4 linked regions of the Homo sapiens genome follow. The protein of the gene in region 3 interacts with the protein of the main gene of each other region in a pairwise test. Each region holds a gene or a part of one and is shown on either strand. Other genes may lie near its edges. The genes, in order: UPRT, PSMA6, ERH and TASOR2.

Region 1 (7,838 bases), on a different chromosome or scaffold from region 3:
ATCCATGGCTGACAGACCCATAGGCGGTTCACATCACAGAACTCCATGCAGACAACACCCAGTACCAGCCCAGAGCTGAACAGACTCTCTGGGTAGCTGGATCCAGAAGAGAGACAACAATCACAGCAGTTCAGCTCACAGGAAGCCACATCCATAGGAAACGGAGGAGAGTACTACATCAAGGAAACACCCCGTGGGACAAAAGAATCTGAACAACAGCCTTTGGCCCTAGATCTTCCCTCTGACAGAGCATACCCAAATGAGAATGAAACAGAAAACAAACCCTGGTAATATTACATAACAAGGCTCTTTAACAGCCCCCAAAAATCACACTAGTTCACCAGCAATGGATCCAAACCAAGAAGAAATCCCTGATTTACCTGAAGAGGAATTCAGGAGGTTAGTTATTAAGCTAATCAGGGAGGCACCAGAGAAAGGCAAAGCCCAATGCAAGGAAATCCAAAAACGATACAAGAACTGAATGGAGAAATATTCAAGGAAACAGATAGCTCAAAGAAAAAACAATCAAAAATTTAGGAAACTTTGGACATACTTTTAGATATGGGAAATGTTCTGGACAGTCTCAGCAACCGAATTGAACAAGTAGAAGACAGAAATTGACAGCTTGAAGACAAGGTATTTGAATTAACCCAATCCAACAAAGACAAAGAAAAAAGAATAAGAAAATATGAACAAAGCCTCCAAGAATTCTAGGATTATGTTAAACAACTAAACCTAGGAATAATCCGTGTTCCTGAGGAAGAAGAGAATTCTAAAAGCTTGGAAAACACATTTGGGGGAATAATTGAGGAAAATTTCCCCAGCCTTGATAGAGACATAGACATCCAAATATGAGAAGCACAAAGAATGCCTGGAAAATTCATCACAAAAAGGTCATAGCCTAGGCACATTTTCGTCGGGCTATCCAAAGTTAAGATGAAGGAAAGAATCTTAAGAGCTGTGAGACAAAAACACCAGATAACCTATGAAAACCTATCAGATTAACAGCAGATTTGTCAGCAGAAACCCTACAAGCTATGAGCTATCTATCTTCAGCCTCCTCAAACAAACAAACAAACAAACAAAAAATCAGCCAAGAATTTTGTGTGCAGCAAAACTAAGCATCATACATGAAGGAAAAATATAGCCTTTTTCAGACAAAGGCTAAGAGAATTCACCATTATCAAGCCACCACTACAAAAACCACTAAAAGGAGCTCTAATTCTTGAAACAAATCCTGGAAACACATCAAAACAGAAACTCTTTAAAGCATAAATCATGCAGGACCTATATAACAAAAATACAGGTAAAAGGCCAAAACTAAAAACAAAAAAAAACAGTACATAGACAACAAAGAGCACAATCAATGCAACAGAACCTCACATTTCAATACTAACATTGAATGTAAATGGCCTAAATGCTCCACTTAAAAGATACAAAACCGCAGAATGGATAAGAACTCACCAACCAATTATCTGCTGCCTTCAGGAGACTCACCTAACACATGAGGACTCACACAAACGTAAGGTAAAGAAGTGGAAAGAGACACTTCATGCAAATGGACACCAAAACCGAGCTGGAGTAGCTGTTGTTATATCAGAAGAAACAAACTTGAAAGCAACAGCAGTTAACAAAGACAAAGAGGGACATTATATAATGGTGAAAAGCCTTGTCCAATGGAAAACTATCACAATCTTAAACATATATGCACCTAACATAGGACCTCCCAAATTTATAAAACAATTACTAACAGACCTAAGAAATGAGTTAGACAACAACACAATAACAGTGGGGGACTTCAGTACTCCACTGACAGCACTAGACAGGTCATCAAGACAGAAGGTCAACAAAGAAACAATGGATTTAAACTATACCTCGGAACAAATTGACTTAACAGATACATACAGAACATTTCGTCCAACAACTGCAGAATACATATTCTATTCAACAGTGCATGGAACTTTCTCCAAGACATACCATATGATAGGCCATAAAACAAGCCTGAATAAATTTAAGAAAACTGAAATTATATCAAGCACTCTCTCAGACCGCAGTGGAATAAAACTGGAAATCAACTCCAAAAGTAACCTTCAAAATCATGCAAATACATGAAATTAAATAACCTGTTCCTGAATGATCACTGGGTCAAAAACAAAATCAAGATGGAAATTTAAAAATTCTTCAAACTGAATGACACATACCTCCCAAATAATGACACAACCTCCCAAAACCTCTGGCATACAGCAAAGGCAGTGCTAAGAGGGAAGTTCACAGCCCTAAACACCTACATCAAAAAGACTGAAAGAACACAAACTGACATTCTAAGGTCACACCTCAAGGAACTAGAGAAACAAGAACAAACCAAACCCAAATCCAGCAGAAGAAAGGAAATAACCAAGATCAGAGCAGAACTAAGTGAAATTGAAGCAAAAAAAAAAATATAAGATAAATGAAACAAAAAGCTGGTTCTTTGAAAAGATAAATTAAATTAATAGACTATTAGCAAGATTAACCAAGAAGAGAGAAAATCCAAATGACCTCACTAAGAAATGAAACAGGAGATATTACAACTGACACCAGAGAAATACAAAAGATCATTCAAGGCTACTATGAACACCCTTACACACATAAACTAGAAAACCCAGAAGAGATGGATAAATTCCTGAAAAAAATACAACCCTCCTTGCTTAAATCAGGAAAAATTTGATACCCTGAACAGACCAATAACAACCAGCAAGACTGAAATGGTAATTTAAAAATTACCAACAAAAAAAAAGTCCAGGATCAGATAGATTCACAGAAGACTTCTATGAGACATTCAAAGAAGAATTGAAAACATTCCTTTTGACACTATTCCACAAGACAGAGAAAGAGGGAATGCTCCCTAATTCATTCTATGAAGCCAGCATCACCCTGATAGCAAAACCAGGGAAGGATATGACCAAAAAAGAAAACTACAGACTGATATCCTTGATGAACATAGATGCTAAAATCCTTAACAAAATACTAGCTAACCAATTCCAACAGCACATCAAAAAGATAATCCACCATGATCAAGTGGGTTTCATATCAGGGATGCAGGGATGGTTTAATGTATGCAAGTCAATAAATGTGACACACCACATAAACAGAATTAAAAACAAACATCACAGGATCATCTCAATAGATGCAGAAAAAGCATTCAACAAAATGCAGCATACCTCCATGATTAAAACTCTCAGCAAAATCAGCATAGAAAGGACACAACTTAATGTAATAAAAGCCATCTATGACAAACCCACAGACAACATAATACTAAATGGGGAAAAGTTCAAAGCATTCACTCTAAGAACTGGAACAAGACAAGGATGCCACCCTCACCATTCCTCTTCAACATAGTACTGGAGGTCCTAGCCAGAGCAATCAGACAAGAGAAAGAAATAAGGGGCATCCAAATTGATAAAGTGGAAGTCAGACTGTCACTGTTTGCTGAGGATATGATCTTTTACCTTGAAAACCCTAAAGGCTCCTCCAGAAAGCTCCTAGAACTGATAAAAGAATTCAGCAGTTTCTGGATACAAGATTAATGTACACAAATCAGTAGCTCTTCTATACACAAACAGTACCCAAGCTGAGAATCAAATCAAGAACTCAACCCTCTACAATAGCTGCCAAAAAAAATAAAATCCTTAGGAATTTACCTAAGGAGTTGAAAGACCTCTACAAGTAAAACTTCAAAACACTGCTGAAAGAAATAATAGATGACACAAATGAATGGAAACACATCCCATGCTCATGGATGGGTAGAGTCAATATTGTGAAAATGATCATACTGCCAAAAGCAATCTACAAATTCAATGCAATTCCCATCAAAATACCACCATCATTCTTCACAGAATTAGAAAAAACAATTCTAAAATTCATATGGAACCACAAAAGACCCCACACAGCCAAAGCAAGACTAAGCAGAAAGAACAAACCTGGAAGTGTCACACTACCTGATTTCAAACTATACTATAAGGCCACAGTCATCAAAACAGCATGGCACTGGTACAAAAATAGGCACAAAGACCAATGGAACAGAACAGAGAACTCAGAAATAAACCCAAATACTTATAGCCAACTGATCTTCGACAAAGCAAACAAAAATATGAAGTGGGGAAAGGACACCCTTTTCAACTAATGTTGCTGGGATAATTGGCTAACCACATGTAGGAGAATGAAACTGGATCCTCATCTCTCACCTTATACAAAAATCAACTCAAGATGGATTAAGGGCTGAAATCTAAGACCTGAAACTATAAAAATTCTAGAAGATAACTTTGGCTTACATACATTGGCTTAGCCAAAGATTTCATGACCAGGAACACAAAAGCAAATGCAATAAAAACAAAGATAAATAGCTGGGACTTAATTAAACTAAAGAGCTTTTGCACAGCAAAAGAAACAGTCAGCAGAGTAAACAGACAACCCATATAGTGGGAGAAAATCTTCACAATCTATACATCTGACAAAGGACTAATATCCAGAATCTACGAGGAACTCAAACAAATCAGCAAGAAAAAAAAAAACAAACAATCCCATCAAAAAGTGGGCTAAGGACATGAATAGACAATTCTCAAAAGAAGATATACAAATGGCCAACAAATATATATATATGATGGAATACATATCAAATATATATATATGATGGAATACTAGTCAGCCATTAAAAAAATGAATTAACAGCATTTGCAGTGACCTGGATGAGATTAGAGATTACTATTCTAAGTGATGTAACTCATGAATGGAAAACTAAACATCATATGTTCTCACTAGTATGTGGCAGCTAAGCTATGAGGATGCAAAGATATAAGAATAATATAATGGACTTTAGCAACTTGGGAGGAAAGGGTGGGAGGGGGTCAAGGGATAAAAGACTACAAATATGATGCAGTGTATACTGCTTGGGTGATGGGTGCACCAAAATCTCATAAATCACCACTAAAGAACTTACTCATGTAATCAAATACCACCTGTACCCCAATAACTTATGGAAAAAAATAAATAAGTGAAACCTGAAAGCTTTAAAAAAATAAAACAAATGTTGAAATTATTGCAAAAAAATGGGACAGAAAAACAAGGGAAACTATCATTTTATCTGATTACAATTGCTACATTAATTATCCTTTGTGTCAGGGACTGTGCCAGGTCAGACCCCCTTTCTGCCTCCTTGGAGTCCAGTCTAGTTAGGTATACCAGGATATGCCCAGTAAATGTTATAACAGAGGTCCGTATAGCTTAGTGGTGACTTCCTCCTTCCTGCTCTAAAAGTCAGAGGACTCACACGGGAAACACACAAAAACCGAAAATATGTCCATGTTTTAAACAATTTGCACGTCACAGTTTTTTTCTGCGGTGGGCATTTTGGTTTTGTGCAAGCTGGAAGGAAATGTTGGGAGATTCCTCCAGTGTTGATGTAATGCTAGGTCAGGCTCTCTAGCCTAGTTCTGTTTAGTGTGTGGAATCCCTGGATCACCATATCTATAGCCCGAATCAGCAGGCTAGCAAATCAGCACACAAGGGAGACTGGCCATTCTCCCAGGGGCAATGGCCCAGTCTAAACACAGCACAATTACCTGTGGTCAGGTTTTACTCAAGACTATACAAACAACTGCTAAGGATGGGAGTCAGGAACTTGTATTTTAAAAAAAGAGAGAGAGACTCCACAGGCAATTCTGATGCACACAGCTTTGGTTAAGGACAATACATTACTTAGTCACATAACTCAAATCACATTAGATTGCACTCACATTAGGGTTACACAGGATGTTCATTCACCCTAAGGATAATTTTCTCCCCTCCAGGTGACTAAAGAGAGTCACAAGGCTGAATGTGCTCCTTTTTTTGTCCTATGTCACATACTGACATACTCTAACATTGCTAAACTTTTAAACAAGCAGCTTGCTGAGGCCATGCCAAAGCCCCACCTAGGACAAATACACAGGAAGCATTCAACAGCTCACACAACAGCTTTAATGTTTCAGGAAACAAAAAATAAAAAACAAAAAACTGGACAGGGAGGATGATCTTTTAAATACACTGCATTGCCTTTAAATATGAGGTCATGAACTATATTCACAGGAAAAGCACATTACTCAGATTTTGCTGAGTTTAGTATATAAAGGAGGCAGAAGAGAAGGATGTGTGGTTTAATCCATTGCAACAACAACAAAACGACATAAATGAAGAAATTTTTTCTTATCCCAAGTTCACCAGCAACCCACATACGTATGGCTGAGCAAATAATCTACTCAGTGTTTACTGCACTTTCAAAGAGAGAAATTTATTTCCTTGAAATTCAATAATACAACCAACATATTATGTTTCAAATATTGCACATTTCAAAATCTAAAAAGACATTTTAAATCAATACAGACAATGTTCTCAATCTTGCCTGTTTCACATATATACAACAACATGCAGTCCTGCTGGCTCAATCCCGATTTCCCCATACCAAAGTCAATTCACAAAGCAATCCCTTCACTATATAGATGCTAAGGACCAGAAACAATAAAAGAAAAAATATGTACTCCAGTGGCTTCTATTATCGGACAGTTCCACAGTGCACATTTATGCTGTCACATCAAAATAGAGAAGAGAATAAGCCCCAAAGAGAACAGGGTATGATAACTGATGGCACCTTCCATAACTAGACCTATGTAAATATAGCTCCTCTTACCATAGGCACCTTAAACCAGCCTCCTAGAGGGGCTAAAACAGGTCTTGTGAGAGAGGATGACAATTTTTTAAAGATAAAGGGAATATAAAGCCTCTAATTTGGTTAACAAAAACAAAACTAAAAACAATGTCCCCAGCCTAAATAAGCAGCAATACATTACTAAAAATTGTGGTGGGTCTTTCCATACTATATCAAAACAAGATAAAAATTATCTACAATATCCCAGTATTCATTTTCAAGATAAAAAAGTGAATTCCACATAGAGTTAAATTCATTTTACTGTCTTCTGACAAATCAAGAAGACAGCACTTATGAATGCAATTAGAAGCATGCACAAATCCAAACATGAGGCTTGAAATTCCTTAAATGTGAACAGCTCTTCACAGTTCATAATGAATATTCATGAACAGTATCTTGTTTTAGCCTCCCAGGGGCTCCATGTGATATTTACCAACATCTTCATTTTACAAATGATAAAGGTGAAGCACAGAGATGCTAAACATATTGCCTAAATCACTTCTCTGGATCCTGCTGTCTCCTTCCAAACTTAGAGGAAAAAAAAAAAAGGATTCCACTTACACCCAGGTTTACTACATAACCCAGGTTTTTCTGACTAATGACATATAATCAGGTATTATTTTGTCATATGTGAATGCTAAATGCCATTCCCTCTCCAAGCGCTATAGCAAGGGCACTTCACCTTTACATTATCATGACACTTTGTGAAATCTAAAAAACTAAGGAATCCTCACCCTCTAAAAAAAAAGGCACATATGTGAATGTTCATAGCAGCATTATTCATAATAGCCAAAGAGTGGTAAACCACCCAAATGTTCACCAACTGATGGATAAACAAATTGTGGTATATTCATATAATGGAGTATCATTTAATCATAAAAAGGAAAGATCCCACACGGATGAACCTTGAAAACATGCTAAATGAAATGAGTCACAAAATGACCACATATTGTATGATAATGAAATGTCCAGAATAGACATTTTTTATATGTAATGTGCAGAATGGGCAAACCATTAGAAATAGAAAGTAGATTAATGATTGTCTAGGGCTTTGGGTGGGTTGGGTGAAAATGGGGAGTGACTGTTTAATGGGCATGAGGTTTCTTGCTGGGGTGATGAC
Region 2 (7,901 bases), about 34 Mb from region 3:
CAGGCTGAATTTGGCCAACTAGGGCCTCAGTCCCATTCCCCCTACAATGCACCTCCTCCCTCTAGTAACTTGGGCAATTCCTGAAAATAGATTACAAAGCTAGGTGTTCTACAATTTTTAACAAATGAATACATGCACACACATACAACCTGCATATGTACATTAAGAGAAATATTTCAGGCCGAGCGCAATGGCTCATGCCTGTAATCCCAGCACTTTGGGAGGCCGAGGTGGGTGGATCACCTGAAGTCAGGAGTTCAAGACCAGCCAGACCAACATGGTGAAACCCCATCTCTATTAAAACTGCAAAATTAGCCAGGAGTGGTGGCACATGTCTGTAATCCCAGCTACTTGGGAGGCTGAGGCAGGAGAATCGCTTGAACCTGGGAGGTGGAGGTTTCAGTGAGCTGAGATCACGGCCATTGCACTCCAGCCTGGGCAACAAGAGCGCAACTCTGTCTCAAAGGGAAAAAAAAAAAAAAGAAAAAGTCTTTCTCTCCACTCCCTGGGAGCAAACACTGCCAATAATATGTTATTAATAATTATAAAGTATGTTTATAATTATGATTGGCATTACAACTTTTTTTTTTTTTTAGATGGAGTCTAGCTCTGTCACCCAGTCTGGAGGTGCAATGGCACGGTCTTGGCTCACTGCAACCTCTGCCTCCTAGGTTCAAGCGATTCTTGTGCCTCAGCTTCCTGAGGAGGTAGGACTACAGGCACGCCAGCACAAGCAGCTAGTTTTTTGTATTTTTAGTAGAGACAGAGTTTCACCATGTTGGTCAGGCTGGTCTTCAACTCCTGACCTCAGGTAATCTGCCCACCTCGCCCTCCCAAAGTGCTGGGATTACAGGTGTGAGGCACTGCACCTGGCCAAGCATTATAACTTTAAATGTCTACCTCTATTTTTTGATATATCAACTTTAGACGACATTTATCTTTTGAGTCCCAAGTATGGAAGATAAAGAGCATAGTTACCTTCCATTAATCTCCCCTCATCATCATCCCATTTTTAAAATATTATTTTCCTACTGTCAATGTTAACAACTTGCATCCTATAATCCTTCCATGCTTTGTCTTTGGAGGATTCTAAAGTTTACAAACAGACAGTATTTAGAATATTATGATTATGTATATATTTTACTGGAGAACTAAGCATGGAAGGACCCATAAAAAGGGAAATATTCCATACAGAGCTACTAATCTAATAGACCAAAAAAAAAAGGGGGGGCCAAAGAATCAAACAAGCATCTAATAACATTCACTGAGCATTTACTATGTGGCAGGCACACGTTAAGCACTCTACATACATTGCCTTATTTAATTCTCAAAACCACCATTTAAGGAAGAATTATTATGAGCCCAACTTTGGAAAGAGAAACTAAGGCTAAGGTTACATACCTGGCAAGTGCCCAGATCAGGTAGTATGGAGCAGGGCAGAGATTTGAATCCATGTATGACTCCAGGGCCTGAACTCTTCACTATACTGCTTGCTCATACTACTCTTTCACTTTCATTTTCCTAACAATGTCTAATTAATGCCCTGAATAGCAGAGGGAGTGTGTTATTCACAGAGATTAAAATCATTCTGTCTAGGCTGGTGCTAGGCCCGGTGCTCACGCCTGTAATCCCAGCACTTTGGGAGGCCGAGGTGGGTGGATCACCTGAGGTTGGGAGTTCGAGATCAACATGGAGAAACCTCGTCTCTACTAAAAATACAAAATTAGCCAGGCGTGGTGGCGCATGCCTGTAATCCCAGTACTTGGGAGGCTGAGGCAGAATTGCTTGAACCCGGGAGGCGGAGATTGCGGGGAGCCGAGATCGCGCCATTGCACTCCAGCCTAGGCAACAAGAGTGAAGCTCTGTCTCAAAAAAATAAAAATAAATAAAAAATCATTCTGTCTAGATAATGAACTTGTTTTCAGATAGATGTTCTCTTCCAAATCTTTTAAAACCATCACAATGACACTGTGTTCAGCCTTTCCACTCACCAAATCTGGGAAGCATTAACGATTATGCTTTATGGCTGGACTTCACAATACAGTATATAGAAACAAAGTAAAGGTCTCAGAGTGACTTTTCCTGTTCACATATTAAAAATCACGAATGGAACGCTGAAAGCAGTAGTCTAATATACGAAAATTATTTAAAACTCAGGAATTTAATACAATAAATGAAAATTCTTTGAGGATACAGTTATCTCTTTGTTCTATCTTTAATCATGTTTTTCAATTGGGGATAAATTAAAAGGGCTACTGAATTATCCAACAAGATGTTTCTTGCTACATTATATACACTATGCAGTAATACACTGAGCAGTTTCATTCCAAGTTATCTTTAACTCTATTTCTAAAATTTACAGGTGAAGAGAACCTCATTTACAGACCAACTCTCTCCTTATGATTCCAAGCACAGATGATTATATTACTGTGCAAGACACGGAGCCACTAAACTCATTCAAAAATAAAACCATCACGGACCAGATGTAAATCAAGCCCTCCTGACACTAAATTCTCTATGGTAAGAGATCAAGGGTCTGGCTTATAATCATAACCTAAACCTTGACACCGTTTCAGCGCAATACATTACTATTCCGAGTAACTGATAGTTTCTTTCCACTACAGGTGTTCTTCAGTAAACTAGTACACAGTACCTCATCTACAACTCAGAATCGGCATTTAAATTACAGGAGCATTCAAACAGATGTGGGTAAAAAGGGGATGCCAATCTCAAGAGCAGCTCTAGAATTGAGTCACTCATTCTATCAGATTCCCAAAGATGTCTTGAACTCTGTAGATATTTGTAAATTGGCACTTTTAATTTTTTTTATCCGTTTGTTTAACGTATCTGTCACTCTAAGCTGTGAGCTTCAGTATAGAAGAGGGTGTAACATTCACATTTGTATCTCCTAGGACTAGCAGTGTCTGGTATATAGCAGGCTTCGAGTGCCTGTGTGGAATTAACCACAGAAGTCCATGCTGCAAACAAAGGAAAACGGAGAGGAGGCATTTTAGTTGAGACGTTAAGGAATCAATTACCCTTTAGAAACAGACCTTGTGCCTGGCCAGGACAGAATACAATAACTGAAGGGGCCTCACGAAGCCGGAGTCAGGCATTACAGCCCTATCTTCCTTAACTCTCCATTGGGTCTACGCAGTGTGGCCGCTCGCCCTGCAGAGACAGGCCTTCAGGCCCCCGATCCCTGCGTCCAGACGGGGGTGCAAACACCACAGAGCTCAATCCAGCTTCAGCCGTTCTCCCTTCCCAGCTCCAGCCCAGCTTCGGCCCCAGACTAAACCCGGGCCGCGTCTGCTCGCTCCAGGCACGTACCATGACAGGGCAATTCAGGTGGCCCACAGGCGAACCTGGTTCACTCACCTACTTGGTAGAGCCGACCCTCGGGTGAAAAAATGGTAATGTGGCGGTCAAAACCGGCGCTGGAACCACGGGACATGTTGGTAGAAGCACTACTTTAAACACAATCCCTGGGCCCCGTAGCTCCCGCACCAGGCACACAAGCACCTCCCGGAAGTTGCAGCGACTGCTTCCGGGGTACCAGCCGCGTTTCTTCCGCTCTTGCATGCCGAACTCACGGCTCTGGAGCCAGTTCGAGCACTGAGCTCTGAGGCCCCGCCCCCTAAGGGGGTGGTGGAGTGAGGGCGGGAGGCCTTTGAAGGTATGCGCCTGCGCCAAGCAGGCCTCTTGAGTGGATAGACGTGAAACTTGGGTCGTGGCGCTTTCAGGCTTTCATCTGGAGAATGAATTGACTATAGCAAGGACGAAAAGGCTTCCTGGGGGCCCAGAATAGCGATTTGCCTATCAGTGTGACCTAAATAGAACGTGTAATTAACAAGTCTCTTACATGCATCCTGTGTCTGGTCAGACTGCTGGCTTGCCTTCTTCCTAACCTCTTTTATCCTCCACTTTCATTCCTATTACGGGGGAAACAGGTTGCAGCTGCAGCTGCAGCCGTTAAATTTAGGCACTGAAGGAAGCGGGTTCAAGCAGCCGCTGGAAAGAACATTATTTTCTGACAGCCAGGCAAGATCTTCTTTTGGCCAGCAGCCCCGACAATTTTTAGTCTTTTTTTTTTTTTTTTTTTTTTTTGAGACAGAGTTTCGCCCTTGTTGCCCAGGCTGGAGTGCAATGGCGCGATCTCGGCTGACTGCAACCTCCCCCTCCTGAGTTCAAGCGATTCTCCTGCCTCATCCTCCCGAGTAGCTGGGATTATAGGCGTGTGCCACCAGGACCGGCTAATTTTGTATTTTTAGTAGAGGCGGGGTTTCGCCATGTTGGTCAGGCAGCTCTCGAACTCCTGAGCCCAAGTGATCCACCTTCCTCGGCCTCCCAGAGTGCTGGGATTACAGGCTTGAGCCACAGTGCCCAGGCAATTTTTAGTCTTGAAAGCGGAGGCCGGGCGCGGTGGCTCACGCCTGTAATCCCAGCACTTTGGGAGACCAAGGCGGGCGGATCACGAGGTCAGGAGATTGAGACCATCCTGGCTAACACGGTGAAACCCCGTCTCTACTAAAAAATACAAAAAAAATTAGCCAGGCGTGGTGGCGGGCGCCTGTAGTCCCATATACTTGGGAGGCTGAGGCAGGAGAACGGCGTGAACCGGAGAGGCGGAGCTTGCAGTGAGCCGAGATCATGCCACTGCACTCCAGCCTGGGCGACAGAGCGAGACTCCGTCTCAAAAAAAAAAAAAAAGAAAGAAAGCCTAACTCCAGCCTGGCCAACATAGGAAGGCCCCGTCTCTACAAAAAATAAAATTAGCTGTGCGTGGTGGCGCGCGCCAGTAGTCCCAGCTACTCGGGGGGCTAAGGTGGGAGGATGGCTTGAGCCCAGGAGATCCAGGTTGCAGTGAGCTATGATCACGCCACTGCACTCCAGCCTGGGCGACAGAGGAAGATCTATCTAAATAAAAAAAAAAAAATGTGGAACTGAGGTTGAAATACGAGTAATGGGGAATGAGGTTAAGCACCCTTGATTAATAATGAACTAGAGCTGAGGGGATGGGGCTTAGAGCAGCTAGTGTTGCATGGATTAATGAGAGTAATTCCAAGCTGGCGAGGTAGCTCCGGGAGAAGAGCAGGTGGCTTTTCAAATCGCAAATTTGTGCCTATTTTGACTTTCCCCAAGGCACACTCCCATTTAATGAATACAAAATGCAAAACATAATGTTAGGATAGTTGTTTTTCTCCCCAGATAAAGATGGTTTGTGTACAAGGAAGGCAAGATACACTAATGTTTGTGGCACTGTAATGCCTGCTGTAATACTGAAGTAGGGATTCTTACTCCTTTAATGTATTTCCTAAACTAACTTTCTATTTTAAAGAAAAAATGTTCTAAGACCTTCATAAGGGAATTCCAATTTCTCAAGTGTTTTTAAAAATTAATTTCTATTTTATTAATCTAAAAAATCCCAAACTGAAACATGGTTAAGAAAACGGTAAATGCATACAGCATCTCTGGCACAAAGGGTACTTTCCAGCACTGGCTAGTTCCCAAGTGGACTGATAAAAGTTTTCCCTTGCTTCTGGTTCAGGTCCCTACTCTCAGGACCAACTCCTCTTGACCTTTTGAAGACTTTTGTCTTCTCAGACTCTGAAAGAGCCTGGTATACTGTAATTCCTACTGTTTGCCTGCATAGTCAGAGTTCTCGGTAAGGCTGCTAGGAGGATGAACTTAGTCTCACAGCCTCAACAGCTGGCTCTATACTGATGTCTCCTGAATTTAGGTCTCTAGCTGGACCCTTCTCTGGAACTGGATCTTCTCTAATTGCCAATGGGATATTTTTCACATTGAGACATATGGCACCTCAAAACCCCACGTTTGAAAGAGAACTCCTTATCTCATCTATTCCCTCTCAAGCGAATTCCTGCCCCTTGTACCACATTTTCCAAGTCTTCAGAGCCAAAACTTTGTAGCAGTCTTAATTTCTTAATACTTCTCCCCCTCTGCCTTCATTTGTTCCTGCTCTGCTATTCTGCCTTTTTTTTTTTTTTTTTTTTTGAAATGCGGTATTGCTCTGTCACCCAGACTGGAGTGCAGTGGCATGATCACTGCAGCCTTGAACTCCTGCGCTCAAGTGATCCTCTGGCCTCAGCCTCCCAAGGAGCTGGGACTGCAGCTGCACACCAACAGTCCTGGCTAGTTTAAAAAAAATTTTTTTTAGAGACTAGGTTTCACTGTATTGCCCAGGCCAGCCTCAAACTCCTGGCCTCAAGGGATCCTTTGGCCTTAGCCTCCTGAGTATCTTTTTTCTTTCTGTTATATAATTCATAAATTTAGGCTGGGCGTGGTGCAACACCTGTAATCCCAGCACTTTGGGAGGCTGAGGTGGGTGGATCATTTGAGGTCAGGAGTTAAAGACCACCCTGGCGAACATGGTGAAACCTCATCTCTATTAAAATACAACAACAACAAAAAAAGCCATGCAGTAATGGTGTGCACCTGTAATCCCAGCTACTCGGGAGAGGTTGAGGCAGGAGAATCGCTTGAGCCTGGGAGGTGGGGGTTGCAGTGAGCTGAGATCATGCCACTGCACTCCAGTCTGGGCAACAGAGTGAGACCTTGTCTCAAAAAAAAAAAAATCATAAATTTGTTCACTGTTTATTGTCCCTCATGCCCACCCACAATTTAACCTCTGTGATGGCAAGGATTTTTGTTTTGTTCACTGATACAGCTCAGACAACTTGAACAATAACCAGCATATATTAAGTGCTCAATAAATATTAGTTGAATGAATGAATCCCTAATGGTGTGGGAGTTAGTTCATCCTTTTTTATTTAAACCTGAATTTAAATTCATTTGTGACAGTTACTAGTTGGTATCAAACTCCTAGGCTCAAGCCAGGAGTGTCCAATCTTTTGGCTTCCCTGGCCACATTGGAAGAAGAATTGTCTTGAGCCACACATAAACTACACTAACACTAATGATAAGTGATGGGCTAAAAAAAAAATTGCAAAAAAATCTCATAATGTTTTAAGAATGTTTACAAATTTGTGTTGGGCCACACTGAAAGCCATCCTGGGCCACATGCAGCCTGCAGGTCATGGGTTGGACAAGCTTGGCTTAAGCAGTCCTCCTGCCTTGCCCTCCCAAAGTGCTGAGATTACAGGTGTGAGCCAGCATGCCTGGCCTGTGATGGGATATTTCAAATCACACATATTACGCACCCTGCAGTCTATGAGAATTATTTCACACATTCAAACAAATCTTCATCCCCTCTTGTGGTATGGTATTTAAGCTGGGCATAGGATTTTGGATGGTGTATATATTTTAATACTCTAAAGGATACTTCCTGGAAGGAATCAACCTCATTTTCAACACAAACATAAATTGAAAGCTAGGATTAAAAATCAGGCTCCTTGAGGGTGGTGGCCACATCTGTTTTTGTTGTTGTTGTTGTTGTTTTTGGCTTATTTTTTGAGATGGAGCCTCGCTCTGTCGCCTAGGCTGGAGTGCAGTGGCACGATCTCGGCTCATTGCAACTTCCGTCTCCTGGGTTCAAGTGATTCTTGTGCCTCAGCCTCCCAAGGAGCTGGAATTACAGGTGTGCACTACCACGCCTGGCTAATTTTTGCATTTTTAGTAGAGACAGGGTTTTGCCATGTTGGCCAGTTTGGTCTCAAACTCCTGGCCTCAAGTGATCCGCCTACCTCGGCCTCCCAAAATGCTGGGATTACAGGCGTGAGCCACCATGCCCAACTAGCCACATCTGTTTTGTTCACCAGTGTATCCTCAATACCAAACAGTGCCTAGCCTGAGGTAAGCACTCCAATCATTTGTTGAATATGCATTCTCACTGTTTAGGTTTTCTATTATGTTAATTGTTTTTCTTTATTCAAAAAGATTTGTCAGTAAATGAGAGATCCAAATTTCAAAACCCTAAAAGG
Region 3 (7,838 bases):
CAGCTCGGTAACTGAGGAGAGAAAGGGAATAAGCAAAGTCACAGTGGTCAATCACTGCCAGGTGTTTAAATCCCCAAATTATAACTGCCCAATGATGGCATAGATGTGCACATTTCCAAAAATGAACTTAATGAAAAGCTGAAAGAGCTACTTACACAGTCGTTGAATTTTAAGTGACATGAACTTTATATCACCTAGTACAATCTTATAGTGGAAAAAGAAAACATGACTTAGAATTTTTAAGTTAAATGCCCAATATGTTACATATCTACTTCTTGACAGAGTATGACCAGAAACCATGTGTTCTTCCTCCTACATAGTTTCTATTTTTATGGTTCCTTTAGTGATTAAAAAACAACAACAAAAAAATTGGCTGGGTGCAGTGGCTCATGCCTGTAATCCCAGCACTTTGGGAGGCTGAGGCGGGTGATCACTTGAGGTCAGGAGTTCAAGACTAGCCTGGCCAACATGGTGAAACCTTGTCTCTACTAAAATACAAAAATTAGCTGGGCATGGTGGTGCACGCCTGTAGTCCTGCCTACTCAGGAGGCTGAGGCAAGGGAATTGCTTCAACCGGTGGAGGATGCAGTGAGCCGAGATCGTGCCACTGCACTCCTGTGAGTGAGACTCCATCTCAAAAAAACAAAAACAACAATACTAGAACAAACTTTAGATTTGCAATGTTTATTCTGAATTAACTAAAAAACCTTTAAAAAACATGTACTGGCAACAAAGATTTCTTGCTAATTTCCTTCCCCCTGTAAAGTATTAAGGAAATCTTAAACCTATATTTTAGGATTTGCTTTTTAAAATAAATAATGCTAGAGGCCTATGGAGAAGAATTATCAGAAGATACAGTAAGCTCCAAAATATCTCTAATCAGAACGAAAAGGAGTACACAGACTAGCATTAGCAGTAAAACTCCAATGGGACTGTGAGTAGTATCTAGTAAGATGTCACAGAGTACTGGGTGTCGCTTTAAATTCTTATCTGAATTAACTCATTTTTACAACCCTGTGAGTAGGTACAATTATCCTCACTTCCCACCACCCCCACCACCGACCCCTGCTTTTTTTTGAGACAGAATCTCACTCTGTAACTCAGTCTGGAGTGCAGTGGTGCCATCTTGGCTCACTGCAACCTCTGCCACCTGGGTTCACATGATTCTCCTGCCTCAGCCTCCTGAGTAGGTAAGACTATAGGTGTGTGCCACCACGTCCAGCTAATGTTTTGTATTTTTAGTAGAGACCAGGTTTCACTATGTTGGCCAGGTTGGTCTTGAACTCCTGACCCTCAAGTGATCCAGCCGCCTCGGCCGCCCAAAGTGCTGGGATTACAGGCGTGAGCCACCGCACCTGGCCTCCTTTTTCATAAATGAGAAACCAAGGCTTTAAAAAGTGAAGCAAGTTATTAGCTAGGTAATGCTGGACTGGAGATAGATTTTAAATACTCCTGACTCCAGAGTCCTCACTGTTAATCACTAAGTTAGAAACCTAAACTACAATTTTTGGCAAGGGAAATAAATTCCAAAGTAGGAATGCTTTATACAATTAACATCATATTCTTCCTCTGAACAGTAAGGTCACAATCTGGTTTATTAAAAATGTACAAGATTCCCATTTTTAAAAATGCTTAACCAAATTTAAAAATTCTAAAATTTAATTTTTTCTGAAAACTCTTTGTCCATGCTTCCTAATTAAATAAGCTCTAAGCTAGTCTACTGCAAAATGTAGCAGAAGAGACTATAACATTTATATTAACACTGGAAAATAACTTAAAAAGGAACAAAATTTCTCACAATTATCATATCTGGGTGGGACAGGCTTTGTTTATACCATTCCCCCCAACAAAAATCACTCTGGTTTGTGAACATTAAGGAATCCATCAACTTGCATGCAATTTTCCAACTCATCAAATAGTAGGCCAGGTGCCAGTGGCTCATGCCTGTAATCCCAGCACTTTGGGAGGCTGAGGCAGGCGGGCCACAATGTCAAGAGATCAAGACCATCCTGACCAACATTGTGAAACCCCGTCTCCACCAAAAAAAAAAAATACAAAAATTAGCTGGGCGTGGTGGCGCGCACCTGTAGTCCCAGCTACTCGGGAGGCTGAGGCAGGAGAATCGCTTGAACCCTGGCGACAGTGCAAGACTCTATCTCCAAAAGAAAAAAAAAAAAAAAGCAATAATGCCTTCTTTATGGAAAGCTGTGTGTCGATGGCTGTTAACTGGCACTTGAAAATGAGACAATTAAATGTTAAATACTTTAATAAAATGCCTAGTCATTGGCACAGATGAATCTTTTAACCTATTGTTATGGTCAATGAATGTAGGTTTATATAAGAACAGAAGCTGTGGGTCTGGGCAGTGAAATCAGAAATGTCTTCAGTGATAACTTCTCTTACTGATCAGGAATACCTCTTGTCATTATAATAACTGACAGTTTAAATGTTCTTTATGTCTCTAAGCAAACAAGAAAATACTGCATAATCAAAAGGGCATTATTTTCATCTTACAAAAAGCTTATTTAAAAAACATACAGATCAGAAAACTGGAAAAATCTGACTCTGACTTTAAGTATACGAAATACAAATTTTCATGCCTACATTTTATTATTAATGCATGGTCAGTTTGCTCTGGGTTTAGTCATGTTACAAAGTAGAATCTTATTTATTCCATTTCCACCTACGCTGTTTAAAAAGAATTAATTTAAAAAAGTCCTAGGTCACTGCCATGTAAATTTAATAGAAACTATGAGCACACAACCATCTACAAACCAAAAACGGACCCAGTCTCTGGTCTGAGGAGTAACGGCCCAAATCACAGGATGTGCTGTGGCAGTGGGTTACCTCTTTGGAAACAATACCTTATTTCTCCTGAATATTCAAAGAACAAAAAGGACATAACCAAAGTCACCTGGGGAAAATAGTTTTAAATCCTAAATTTGATTCTGAAAGTTTTTCAGAGGCCAAAAAATTTTCAACATTAGAAACAAACAAATAGTTACAGGTTTTCAAGCTATGATAATTTACGGTTTTTAACACTCTGAAACTACTAAAAAACCATAAATTATCATTAACCTCTCTTCTATATTTCTGGAAATACTGTAGGTGGGAAGAATTATCTAGGTAATAATTAAAGCTTTCCCCCTATGTTGCTTTAATATAGCAAATATTGTATTAAAAATCAGTTTAGTATGCTAGATATGGTTTCTAGTTTACATTTTAAAGTCTAATGCAGCCGGGCACAGTTGCTCATGCCTGTAATATCACTCCTTGGGGAGGCTGAGGAAGGAGGATCACTTGAGCCCAGGAGTTTGAGACCAGCCTGGGTAATATAGCAAGACCCTGTCTCTAAAATTTTTTTTTTATAAAGTCTAGTACAAAGTTAGAAAAGTTATGTTATGTCATTAATGACATACTTGTATATCATTAACATGTCACTTGTAACTGTTTTACTCTGCTCAATTTTCATATTGTTGAAAAAACCTCAACACCTTTTAAATCTCCCTTGAAATTTATAATTTATCTCACACGTAGACATTAAAATTCATATCATTCTACTCCTGGCAAATTTAAGAACATGCTTGTAATTAAAAATAAAACTCTATCCTGACTTCTTCAATCTAGTTGAAAAGGGAGTTGCTGCATATCTAATAATGCTGTGCTCAGCAAGCACTTGATCCTCACAAGGAGTCTTATGAACTAGATTTGTCTGAATTTTACAAATTAGCAAACTAAAGTTTAGCAATACAAAGCTGCCTTGTCAAAGGGAGCTAGCAAATGGTAGACCCAGGATTCAAACCCAGCTATGTCTAATTCTGCCACTCCAGCTAGCTCTTAACCACAGCCTCCCAAGACAAGTAAAACATGATCCTTTGCTTCAAGTTTACTTCCCACTTACTGGGAGTAAGTATGACATCCCAAAAGCGTCAGGATTACATCCTGAATGTTTCAGTAAGGTTCTTTTATAAAACCATAAAGACAACCATTAATTTTTAATCAATGCAGAATATAGCTCTGTAATATAAATAAGGGAAATAGAAAATTATCAATAATTTTAGAAAGCTATTCCTCAAATAACAACACAAGTGACGTGCATTTATATAACCAATATTTACTCAGCACTAATTATGTACCAGAGATGCAGCAGTGAACAAACACAAAGCAACTTCTTCTTAAATTCTATCAATTAATATACACATTATTGGTAATTTCATATCCAGTGGATGATTCTGTCAACACTTAGGCCTCCCAATTCCATGAAGTCTTTTCCTCTAATGATCTCATCTCCTACCCTCTCTTGGCCAGATCCCTAGACCTTGTCATTTCCAACTACTTCAATTTCCTAATTTCAAGCATGTCATTCTCTGATCACCACTTCCTAACACTCTAATGTGAGCAATCCTTGATCCAGTGGGACCTACAATGAACTGATCTACCTCTGTTTCCAGCACCTCCTCCTACACCCCCAATTAAAGCTCATGGTCATTCAGTCGTTGCTGTTGTCCTCATATATGCCCTCAACCTTTAGCAAAATCTTTACTCTCTACCTACTCCTCACCTGTAACCATCCAGGTGAGAGAGACTAGGAAAAAAATCCCATGATCACAATGACTGATTTCACTTTAAATCACTATCAGATAGGTACTTTGGAGGACACTTAATGCATCCCTGAATTAATTGCAGTTCCCTAATTCTTTCACCTTCCTAGCTTATTTCTTACTTTTCCACAAACCTGTAACACCTGTTTCAAATGATGTCCTTGCTCCTTATCTTTCTGAGATAACTGAAGCATACAGAAGATAATTCCCCCCAGCTCCCAAATTTGCCTGTCCTCCCTTTTTTATGATTGAACTGTCCAAGAGCCAATTTGAGCTATCAGTTTCTCCTTCTCTGGTACATCATCCCATCAGCCTGCAAACTTACCATTACTTTTCCCACTTAAAAAAAAGCAATTTCTTTCTCCAGCTACAACCCCATTTTTCTGTTCTTTCAAGCAAAATTCTTTAAATAAAAAAAAGGAAAAAAAAAAAAAAAGCAAGCCTGTAATGGCCACCTATAAATCCTCTCTTTTCATTCCCTTCCATACACTGAAATCTGTAAGCATTTTACTCCTGGCACTCTACCACAACCGTTCTGGAAGTCACCAAAGACTTCCACAGTGTCAAATCCAGGGGTCAATTAAATTCTCAGTCCTCACATATCTGTCCTATCAATGATATGACACACTTCTGCATTTGGCTTCCAGGATATCATTGCTCCCTGCTCCTCCAATCTCCTAAGACACTCTCCTTCACTCATTCCTCTGCAGCCTCAAAGGCTTCCTTAATGACTTCAAACATGCTAGGCACTCCTACTTCAGGACTTCTACACTAGCTGTCCCTCATCCCCTCTGTCTGGTATGTTTTTCCTATAGATGTCTGAATGGCTTAAAGTACCATGCAACATTCATTTGAATGTTCTGAGTGATCAAAGTGAAATGGCTACAACCGGAACACAATGAAGAGGTACAGAAAACAAAACTCAAACATCCCAAGGAAATGCGTGTTTTGGAACTTTTGGGGAGACAGCATGGTGCAGCCACATTCCATGATTGGCTCCAGTGGTGATCCAGGAAGTGCCTATGAGTAAGACTTGTATATTTCTCATCACTGCTCTTTCAACTTCTAGCACAGCACCTGACATGTAATAAATATTCAAGTATCTGATGATTGAGTATTGTATCATAAGGTGCTTCCATTTTCCTCGGTTAAATGAGCTGTATTTACACTCAATTTCTGTTCGCTAATGTAAAAAAGATTAGGTAAGTCTACAGTAACACTTTATGCTCCTTGTTAGTAATTGTCAGAAGCAGATTATCAATACAAACTATAACAAATATGTTAAAAAATCTCACTCTAACATACCAAAATATACGTACTTACACAGCGTAGGATTGAAATTAAATTTCAGCTATACGCATATTTAAGTTTTTGAAATGTCATGAAAAAAAGATAATCTTAGTTTTAATCCAAAACCAATGGCTTTAAGACAAAGACTGTAAAGGAAAAAAAAAATTAGGTATAAGGAACAAAGAAGAGGCACATGGAACTTCTGAATTAGGATCCTTTCTGGATACTAACTATATCAATTAGCAAAGTTATTTTTTTCTGTGCCTTTGGCTTTATGTTGCCAATCTCTTATTTCTGTAAGAGAAATATTAATTACTATACACTATGCAAATGCAAAGATCAGTATCAGGCACATAATTAGCTCCCAATACCATAAATCACCTCAAACAGACAGAAAAGCAATAGAAAATACAAGATAAAAGACATGTTGGCTAATACTTACACCAGGCAGCTGAGGTCTGCCAGATCATCGATGAAATCAAACAACTGACTGATGTCATATGTGATAGAGGGACTGTTGGGATTCATTCTTTTCAGATGTTCTTCATACATTTTACAAACACCTAAGAAAGGATAGGAAAAAAAGCAAAATCTTACAATCGCATACACTTCTAGATATGAGCAGTGCTTATGAGCTGTGCTATATGTTGATATCATATTTACTTTAATAAAGTTGGGCTGGGGAAAAGATGATAGATTGATGGCTTTTGATTATTGCCACTAGCAAATACTTTTTTATTTTATAAATTCACCAGGTCAGGTGTAGTGGCTTACGCCTGTAATCCCAGCTCTTTGGGAGGCTGAGGCAGGAGCATCACTTGAGCCCCACAGTTTAAGACCAGCCTGCCTGGGCAACACAGGGAGACCTCATCTCTACAAAAATTAAAAAATTAGCCAGGCGTGATGGCGTGTGCTTGTGGTCCCAGCTACCTGGGAAGCTGAGGTGGGAGAATCACTTGGCTGCAGTGAGCCGTGATTGCATCACTGCACTCCAGTCTGGGCAGCTGAGAAATTCACCACAATGTTGATGTAACTATTTTGTGTCTTAATAATAAAATGATTACTTCAAACCACTGGAGCTAAGGGGCTTTAAAGACTTGCCATCTGATGGCTCAAACAAATAACACTGTGGGTCTTAACAGGTTTTTCAGTAATTCTTCCTAAAGCCACAGAGCAAAAAAAAAAAAAAAATTGGCAACAAGGAAAGAGATTATCCTAATGTATATTTAAGATCCTAGACTAGGCCGGGCACAGTGGCTCACGCCTGTAATCCCAGCACTTTGGGAGGCCAAGGCGGGCGGATCACGAGGTCAGGAGATAGAGACCATCCTGGCCAACACAGTGAAACCCTGTCTCTACTAAAAAAATACAAAAAATTAGCCAGGCATGGTGGCAGGCACCTGTAGCCCCAGCTACTCGGGAGGCTGAAGCAGGAGAATGGCATGAACCTGGGAGGTGGAGATTGCAGTGAGCCGAGATCGGCCACTGCACTCCAGCCCGGGTGACAGAGCAAGACTCTGTCTCAAACAAACAAACAAACAAAAAATCCTAGACTATGGATTCAGACAGACTTTAGTTCCAACTCTGCCCCTGTCAAACCGAGGACAAACGACGCCATTCCCTGAACCACACCTGTCAAACAGAGTTAAGAGTGCCTCTTCATAGAATTGTGAGGTTTATTTGAAATAATACACATAAAGCATTAGCACATGAACAAGGATATAAGTACTTAAATATAATAAAAAAGATAATGAGCAAAATCATTAATAGCAAGCCCACATTACTAATTATAATTAGCTATAGAGTATATTATCTATTTAGTTTTTATTCAATAATACTCTCCTTTTTTTTTTCTTTGAGATGGAGTTTTGCTCTTGTTGCCCAGGCTGGAATGCAATGATGAGATCTTGGCTCACTGCAACCTCCGCCTCCTGGGTTCAAGCGATT
Region 4 (8,086 bases), on a different chromosome or scaffold from region 3:
GCAGATGAGACTCTAGTCATTAAAGGAGACCTTCAGCGTATTTGCAAAAATGTACAAAAATCCCATTCTTGTCACTAATTTTGGGGAGATAAAATATGTTAAGATGTAATGGGTTATTATATTTAAAGGTACCAATAAATAAACATACATTTCAAATTTATCAGTTTTAATATCTAATACGGTAATTATCAATTGATATAATCCAATAAACAAAAGATCTTTGGGATCTTCAGCAGTCTTTTGAGACGGAGTCTCACTCTGTCACCCAGGCTGCCGTAGAGTGACACAACCTTGGCTCACTGCAACCTGTCTCCCAGGTTCAAGTGATTCTCTTGTCTCGGCCTCCCGAGTAGCTGGGACTACCTGCACCTGCCACCACACCTGGCTAATTTTTGTATTTTTAGTAGAGATGGTGTTTCACCATGTTGGCCAGGCTGGTCCCTAACTCCTGACCTCAAGTGATCCACCTGCCTTGGCCTCCCAAAGTGCTGGGATTACAGGCGTGGGCCACCGTACCTGGCCCCCTCAATGGTTCTTAAAAAGTGTAGAGGGGTCCTGGGAATAAAGTTTCTAAATTGCTAAACTATAGGCACGTGCTTTAACATGAGTGAATCTCAGAAACAATGTTTAACAAAAGTAACTCATAGAATACAGAATGACTTTATTTAAATAAAGTTCAAAAACAGGTAAGAGTAAACAATGCTAGTTAAGGATATCTATATAGGTGATAAAACTGTTTAAAAAGGCAAGGGAATAATTAACACAAAATTAATAATGGCCAGGGTAACGGGGGGCAGGGAACGCATTCCTCCTGGGGTAGAAACACACAAAAGGTTTCCAAACTAACTAAAGTTTCTAAAGCTTTTATTAATTTTTGTTATGAAATATACCATTAACATGTACTGACAAAAAGCATATTTATTACACAGATACGCTTTGTCAGTACATATTAATGACATATTTCACAATAAAAAATTTTTAAAGAAAAGGGAGATGTACATATTCTCTTAGAAGGAAAAACTCAAATAAATGTCTCTTCTCAGATTATATATTCAACACCATCACAAACAATATCCCAAGATTTTCTATAGGACTTAAAAAGATAGTTTTAATTTCTTCTGGAAGAAAAAATGCAAAAGAAAAACCCAAAGCTCTTTTTCAAAAGAAAGTACCAAAATATATTATAAAACTATGATAATTAAAATGCTACAGTAATAGTTACATGGGCGAAAGAAAAGAGAGCTCAGACTCAATAAAAACATCAGCAAATGATATGACCTGCCTAAAAAGATTTAACTTTTGTATTCACCAAGGAAGATAAAAATTAAAACAGAATGTTACTTTCAATTACTAGGTGGCTAAGATATTTTAAAAATACCATTATCATCCAGTGCTGGCTAGCATGGAGATAAAAACACATCTTTTGAGCGAGTGAACATAAAAAGGTACAATCATTTCAGGGCAATTTAGCAACATGGTTATCCAGCACTCTCATAAGGAGTCAATTCTACAGAAATACTATCATGACCACCTGAAGCACTGTTTATAACAGCAAGAGATAATCACTGCAGTATTGTCAGTTATAGGGATATCTTGAAAATAACTTGAATGTCTACCAACAGAAAAATGAAATTCACTTGATAAATACATGCCATATTGATCTATTTTTACTGAATAGATAGTATACTGTATTTAACAAACACCATGTCTCAGTCAAGTTCTTAGGCACTTCACCGATTTTAACCCATTTTAACAACTATGTTTGGACCACAGGAGATGCTTATAATCTCCCTTTAAAAAAATTAGTTACATTTGGGCAAATGTTCTGTATACACAAAACTTCAAATATACCGTCTTGGTCTTCCTTAACATAATTGTGGACCTTTTGTCACCCTTTTTCTGGCCTGGCTTAGTTATTTATTGATGTACAGTACAGGACATACCGCATACAGTCACCCATTCCTATAAGGCAGTTTTTCGACAGAAGGGTATTCTTGCACCGTTAGGGGACACTGCTTTGCTATAAACCTCCTAGGCAGGATTACCGCCAGGCTCACCCCTAGTTTTATTCAGGGAACACTGTAGACTCTAGGATCGCGAATGCCATTCCAATAATACCATACACTTGTACGCCACATATTTAAGTTTTGGATACACTTTCATAAACTTTTCTATTCTAATTGTACCTTACAGGGAGAATAAGGAAGAGTAAGCGTGGTTTGTTTAAAGTTACAGATTTCAAATAGACAAGAAGCGACTAAGAGAAACTTGAGAATTCCCAAAGTAATCTTCCTCAAAATTTCAGTCATCAACCCAGTTCTCCCACGAAACGCTGCTTGGCGCCGCCTTCAGACAAACTTCTGTGTTGCTCGCACCAAGTTATCCCAACGCGGCTTGCGCTTGCTGCTGAAATGACCCTCCCTTCGGAGAGACCTGTTTTACCCTAAAAAGAAAAGGTGGCGCATTGCCATGAAGTCTCGAGTAGCAGCAGGCTTCACGCAGAACCCGCAGGAAATGATTTCCCAGCCGGTGCAAACCCGAAGACGGAAACTTCAGCCAAGAACTTATCAGCATATCCCTGAGGACGCAGCTGTCCCCTGACAGGCGACGCAAACGAAACGCCTCAGAAAGGGGCAAGATGACACGGTTAGGATCTCCCTGCCGGCGACACCGAGCGCGGCCACAGGTTGTAGCGCAGGACAGAAGGTTGAGTCATCTAGAAGGCGCCGACCCCTCCCACCCCCTCACCCGGAGCGCGGCAAAAGGCAAGGAGAACGCGTCGACCCTCGCAGCCAAGCCCCGGCAGCTGCCCGAGCGCTCGGCCTCGGGGACCCGCCGTCCTCCTCGCAGGGTTCCCGGGCGCCCAGGCCGAGGAGGGACTTACCCGTCCTTGGCGTGGCCGCCGCCCCCGAGGACCTGAGATCCCGGCTCGGCCTCCTTCCCATGCTTCTCCCGGCCGTGCTCTGCGTCCTCCCGGGCCCTCGCGACACCGGCGCACGTGGGAAGCACCAGTCGCCGGCTCCGCGCTCCCGCGGGGACCCCCCTCAGGGGCACGCCGTCCGCCCCAGCCCCGGGGTCCTCGCCGCGGGCGCTGACAGGGACGCCGCGGCCGCCCGCGCTCTGTCTCCCGTCAGGGTCACGGGCAAGAGGCAACCCCGGGACGCCCGGCAGCCTGCGAGAACATGCCGACTTTCTCTCTGACCGGCGCTAGCAACCGGAAGCAAAACCTCGCGGCCAAAGGAAAAGAAAAGGGGAGGGGGGGGCAAAAAAAGAAAGTGAAAACTGAAGTGAGGCGTCTCCCTCAGAGATGGGAACCAATCGCCGGGAAGAAACCAAGGCGCAGGCGCGGACCGAGGTCAGCGTCCACGCGGCGCTCGCGTCTCCCCTCTGCGCAGGCGTAAGGCCACAGCTCGCTCCTGATTAGGCGGCCGATCCCAACGAGCGCGTGGTGTCTCGCGTTGCCGACCCTTGACAGGAGGCGGAAGATGCCCTTGGGAAGAGGCGGGAGACGCTCTCTCGGCTGACCTACAGTGCTGTGGCTGTGGCCCACGTGGTCGCCTTCGGGCGCCTTCTCCCTTCTCAGCGTTTCATTCCCCAGGTGCTGCTGCAAGAACAGTTTATTTGTCTGGCCCGAATGCGACATTTTGGAAATTTTGCCCTTGTTTTAATCCATATAGTAGGTGTGGCTGTTACCCCCTAGGAAAGCATCTCTAGAAATTTATAACACATGCACAGAGAGCTAAGGTGACCATCAATAAATTCAGGTTTACCCTTGCCCATGATAAATAGTCATGCAAACATCATTTAACTGTAGGGACACCTTATGAGAGAGATGCCTCATTAGGCAATTTGGTCCTTGAGTGAACATCACAGAAACCTAGAAGCATAACCTACTACATACTTACACCATAAGCCATAGCCCATTACTCCTGGCTACAAACCCATGCTATATGTTATTGTACTGAATACTGTGGACAATTATAACACAATGGTAAGTATTTGTATAAGCATATCTAGACATAGAAAAGGTACAATAAAAATACAGTATGAAAAATAATGGTACACCTGTGTAAGGCATTCTCACGAATGGACCTTGCAGTACTGGGAGTTGCTCTGGGTGAGTCTGTGAGTGAGCAATGAGAATGTGAAGGTCTGGGACATTACTGTACACTCTTGTAGACTTTATAAACACTGTACACCTAAGCTACACTGAATTTATTTTTTTAAATTTTTTCATAATTAACCTTAGCTTACTGTAACTTTTTAACTTTTTAAAACTTTTAAAAAACTTTTTAAGACTCTTTTGTAATAACACTTAGCTTAAAACAAACACATTGTACACAAATATTTTCTTTATATCCTTAATCTGTAAGTTTTTTTCTATTTAAAAATTTTTTTAATTTACTTTTTAAACTTTTTTGTTAAAAACTAAGACACAAACACACATTAACCTGGGCCTACACAGGGTCAGGATCATCAACATCATTGTCTTCACCTCCATTTTGTCCCACTGGGGGGCTGGGATTACGGTGGAGCCACTGCGCCTGGCCATGTGTGCTGTACTTTTATATGACTGGCAGTGCAGTAGATTCATTTACACCAGCATCACCACAAACATATGAGTAATGTGTTGCTGTACGAAATTAAGATGGCTACGACATCACTAGGCAATAGAACTCTTCAGCTCTATTATAATCATATAAGATCACTGTTGGATATGTGGTCTGTTGTTAACTGAAACATTAAGTGACATATGACTGTACCAATGAGAGAGATTAAGTGCTAATGAACATGTATCATGAGTCAAGCACTGTGCTGGTAATACCAAGAGATTCAGTCATTGTGTTTACTGTTTACTGTAACCAGGTGCTGTAATAGACACTGGTTTTACAATCATGAACAAGCTAGATAAGGACCCTGCCTATAATGGAATTTATTCCAGAGGTGAGTGACAAACACAGGTAAATCACCACGACAAGAAAATAGAATCTCAGATAACAATACATGCTGTGAAAACTCACTGGAAATGCTAGTGGATGGGACTGGGGGCTGGAGGCCAAGGGCAGAAGTAGTGGAGCTACAAGATCTTACTGAAATGGGCACATCTGAGGTCAAACCCTAAAGATCAAAACTGATAGAACCAAAGCTTGGAATACGTGGAGGAAGAGCTTTCCAGGCAGAAGGGAAAGCAAGTGCAAAGGACTTGAGAAGTGAAATGAAACCTATTCAAGAACAGAAGAAGGCTGACTGTGGAAGTAGAGAGTGAAGTACAACAACATTTTAATAGTGCACAAAACCGGAATGTACAACTCCATGATTTATCACAAGGCAAATATTCATGAAACCAACACCCCCATCAAGAAATAGAACATTGCCAGTACCCCATCCCTCTTCCCTAGCCTAAGCACTATTCTGACTTCCATGGTACTCTCTTCTTTGCTTTTAAAAGTAAGTTTGCCAACTAAATATGCACCCTGAAACTTTATCATTTAGTTTGCTTGTGGTTTGAACTGTATATAAAGTGAATAATTTTGTGCCTGCTTGTGAGACTCACTGTGTTTTTGGGTGTACTTGTTCTTTCGTTTTCATTGCTGTATATGTAGGCGTGAATGTAACACATTTGCTTTACCCATTGTATTATTGATGGACATTTGGGCTGTGTCCAGTTCTTGGCTATTATAAATAATACTTTTGTGATCATTCTCATTTACATCTCTTGGTGTACATGGGCACTCATTTCTGTTGGATGAAAACCTAGGATTGGGATTTTGGAATGCTAGACATGATAATTTAGATTTTTGTTTCTGCAAATATTTATGCCCTTATTCCCCACGGTTGGCCAAGTTTCCTTCTCTACTTCATTGACGTTGGGCTTGGTCTAAGAGAGGTCTTTTGGCTGATAGAATATCAGCAGACATGACACAGCAGGATTCTTCAGTGTGCTCGTGCTGTTTGAGTTGGCTCCTGTGCTCAGGTGATTCATATGTGGAGAAAATATCTCGCGTAGCTGTTGTCTCTTCAGCCTGAGTCTCCAGAACAAACCTATGTGGAACAGATGTGACACCAACCCACAGTCCAACACACTTTGGATTAACAGAGCCTTAGACATCCTGAAGATCAAGGATTCTGAAAGTTAATGCTGTTATCAAAAGCTAACCGAGTTTGGGGTGATTTATTATAGGGCATTATTGTGGCAATAACAAGGGCATATGTTCAACTTTAGCAGATCATTTCAAACTTTTTGCAAGCTGGTTTTACTAAGTTATACAGTTCCACAAAGATAATTCTAGTTCGTCTACATCCCTGCCAATACTTTTGAATTGTAGCCACTCTGAAGGGTGTGTCATGGTTTGAATTTGCATAGTATACAATGTTGTTCTTTTTCAAGTATGTTTGGCTATTCTAAGTCTTTTTTTTTTTTTTTTGAGACGGAACGTCACTCTTGTTGCCCAGCCTAGAGTGCAGTGGTGCAATCTTGGCTCACTACAACCTCCGCCCCCCACCCCCAGCCCCTGTTCAAGCAATTCTCCTGCCTCAACCTCCCTAGTAACTGGGATAACAGGTGTCTGCCACCACGCCTGGCTAATTTTTTATATTTTTAGTAGAGATGGGGTTTCGCCATTTTGGCCAGGCTGGTCTCAAACTCCTGACCTCAGGTGATCCACCCGCCTCGGCCTCCCAAACTGCTGCGATTACAGGCATGAGTCACTGCACCCGGCCCATCTATTCTAAGTCTTTTAAGTTTCTGTATACATTTTAGAACCAGCTTATTTTCTACCTCAAAAACAACCTGTTGGGATTTTGGTTGGGATTGTGCTGAATGTACATATCAATCTGGGAGAGAATTAACATCTTACTAATTGTCAAATTCTACTTATTCAGGTCTTTAAAAATTTCCTTCAGCAATATTTATAGTTTTCAGTGTACAGCTCTTGCACATATTTTGTCATATTTATCTCTTTGTTTTTGATGTTATTCTTAATAGTACTAAAAATTTTTGCAATAATTTGTTGCTAGTATATAGAAATAAAATTGATTTTTCCATATTAACTTTATATCTTGTAGCTTGCCGAAATCACTTATTATATCCAGTAGCTATTTGTTTGCACATGTGTGCATTCTTTATGCTTTTTTAGGACATTTTCTGCAAATAAAAATAGTTTTACTTCATTGTTTCTAATTCGTATTTCTTTTCTCCTTATTGCATCAAGGCCATTCCATTAATGTAATGTTCAATATAAGGAGTGAAATAAAATATCCCTGACTCAAAAAAAAAAATCCTTGTCTTGTCTCTCATCTTAGTGCAAAAGCATTTAGTTTGTAACCATTAAGCATAATGTTAGCTTTGGTGTTTTGTACCCTTTTTTAGATTTATGAATTTCCCTTCTGTTCCTACTTTTTGAAAGTTTTTCTCATAAACGGGTGTTGAATTTGGTCAAATACTTTTCTGCATCTATTGAGGTGATTATATAGTTTTTCTTTTCTGATCTACTAATATGGTGAATTACATCAATTGATTTTTCAAATGTTAAATCAACAGTGAATTCCTGAGATAAACCCAATTTATTCTGGATTCATTATCCTTTTCATATATTATACTGGATATGAATTGCTGATATTTTGTTAAGGATTCTGGCATTTGTATTCATACAAGATATTGGTCTATGTTTTTGTTTTATTTTTCTTGTGAGGTCTTCAGTTTGGGTATGAAGGTAACTCTGGCCTCATCCAATGAGTTGGGAAGTTTTCTTTCTTAATTTTCAAAATACTTTGATTTAAATTGGCAGTATTTCTTCATAAATGTTTAATATAATTAATCAGTGAAACAATCAGGGCCTGTGTTTTTTATAGCAAGGTTTTTAAGTGCAGGATGTTATATCTTTAGTAGATATAGACCTATAAAGACCTAATATCTATTTCAGAGAAAGAGAGTTCTACCAATGCCACTGTCGTACCAGAGTGATGGTGGGCATATTTAAAGTTGTGTCATCATGAGAAGCACGATCAGAAGCTTAACACTATGTGTGTGGGGAAATATTACACAGAGTTGCGTCAATTTATTATCTAAACTCTAGTTGCCAATCAA

What was found.
Region 1: the proteins of ERH (region 3) and UPRT interact in binary tests that used the Homo sapiens proteins (3 or more experiments, as listed by UniProt).
Region 2: the proteins of ERH (region 3) and PSMA6 interact in binary tests that used the Homo sapiens proteins (3 or more experiments, as listed by UniProt).
Region 4: the proteins of ERH (region 3) and TASOR2 interact in binary tests that used the Homo sapiens proteins (3 or more experiments, as listed by UniProt).

Annotation. Positions count from the first base shown.
Region 1 is NC_000023.11:75,276,837-75,284,674, reverse strand, and holds part of UPRT (uracil phosphoribosyltransferase homolog), read right to left. Parts: intron 1-7,838.
Region 2 is NC_000014.9:35,288,030-35,295,930, reverse strand, and holds the start of PSMA6 (proteasome subunit alpha type-6), read right to left. Parts: upstream 3,550-7,901; 5' UTR 3,455-3,549; coding exon 3,379-3,454; exon of another isoform or gene 3,331-3,378; intron 1-3,330. UniProt on the Homo sapiens protein: Component of the 20S core proteasome complex involved in the proteolytic degradation of most intracellular proteins. This complex plays numerous essential roles within the cell by associating with different regulatory particles.
Region 3 is NC_000014.9:69,380,630-69,388,467, forward strand, and holds part of ERH (enhancer of rudimentary homolog), read right to left. Parts: intron 6,455-7,838; coding exon 6,334-6,454; intron 5,709-6,333; exon of another isoform or gene 5,417-5,708; intron 12-5,416; coding exon 1-11. UniProt on the Homo sapiens protein: May have a role in the cell cycle.
Region 4 is NC_000010.11:5,679,974-5,688,059, reverse strand, and holds the start of TASOR2 (protein TASOR 2), read right to left. Parts: upstream 3,223-8,086; 5' UTR 2,885-3,222; intron 2,444-2,884; exon of another isoform or gene 645-2,443; intron 1-644.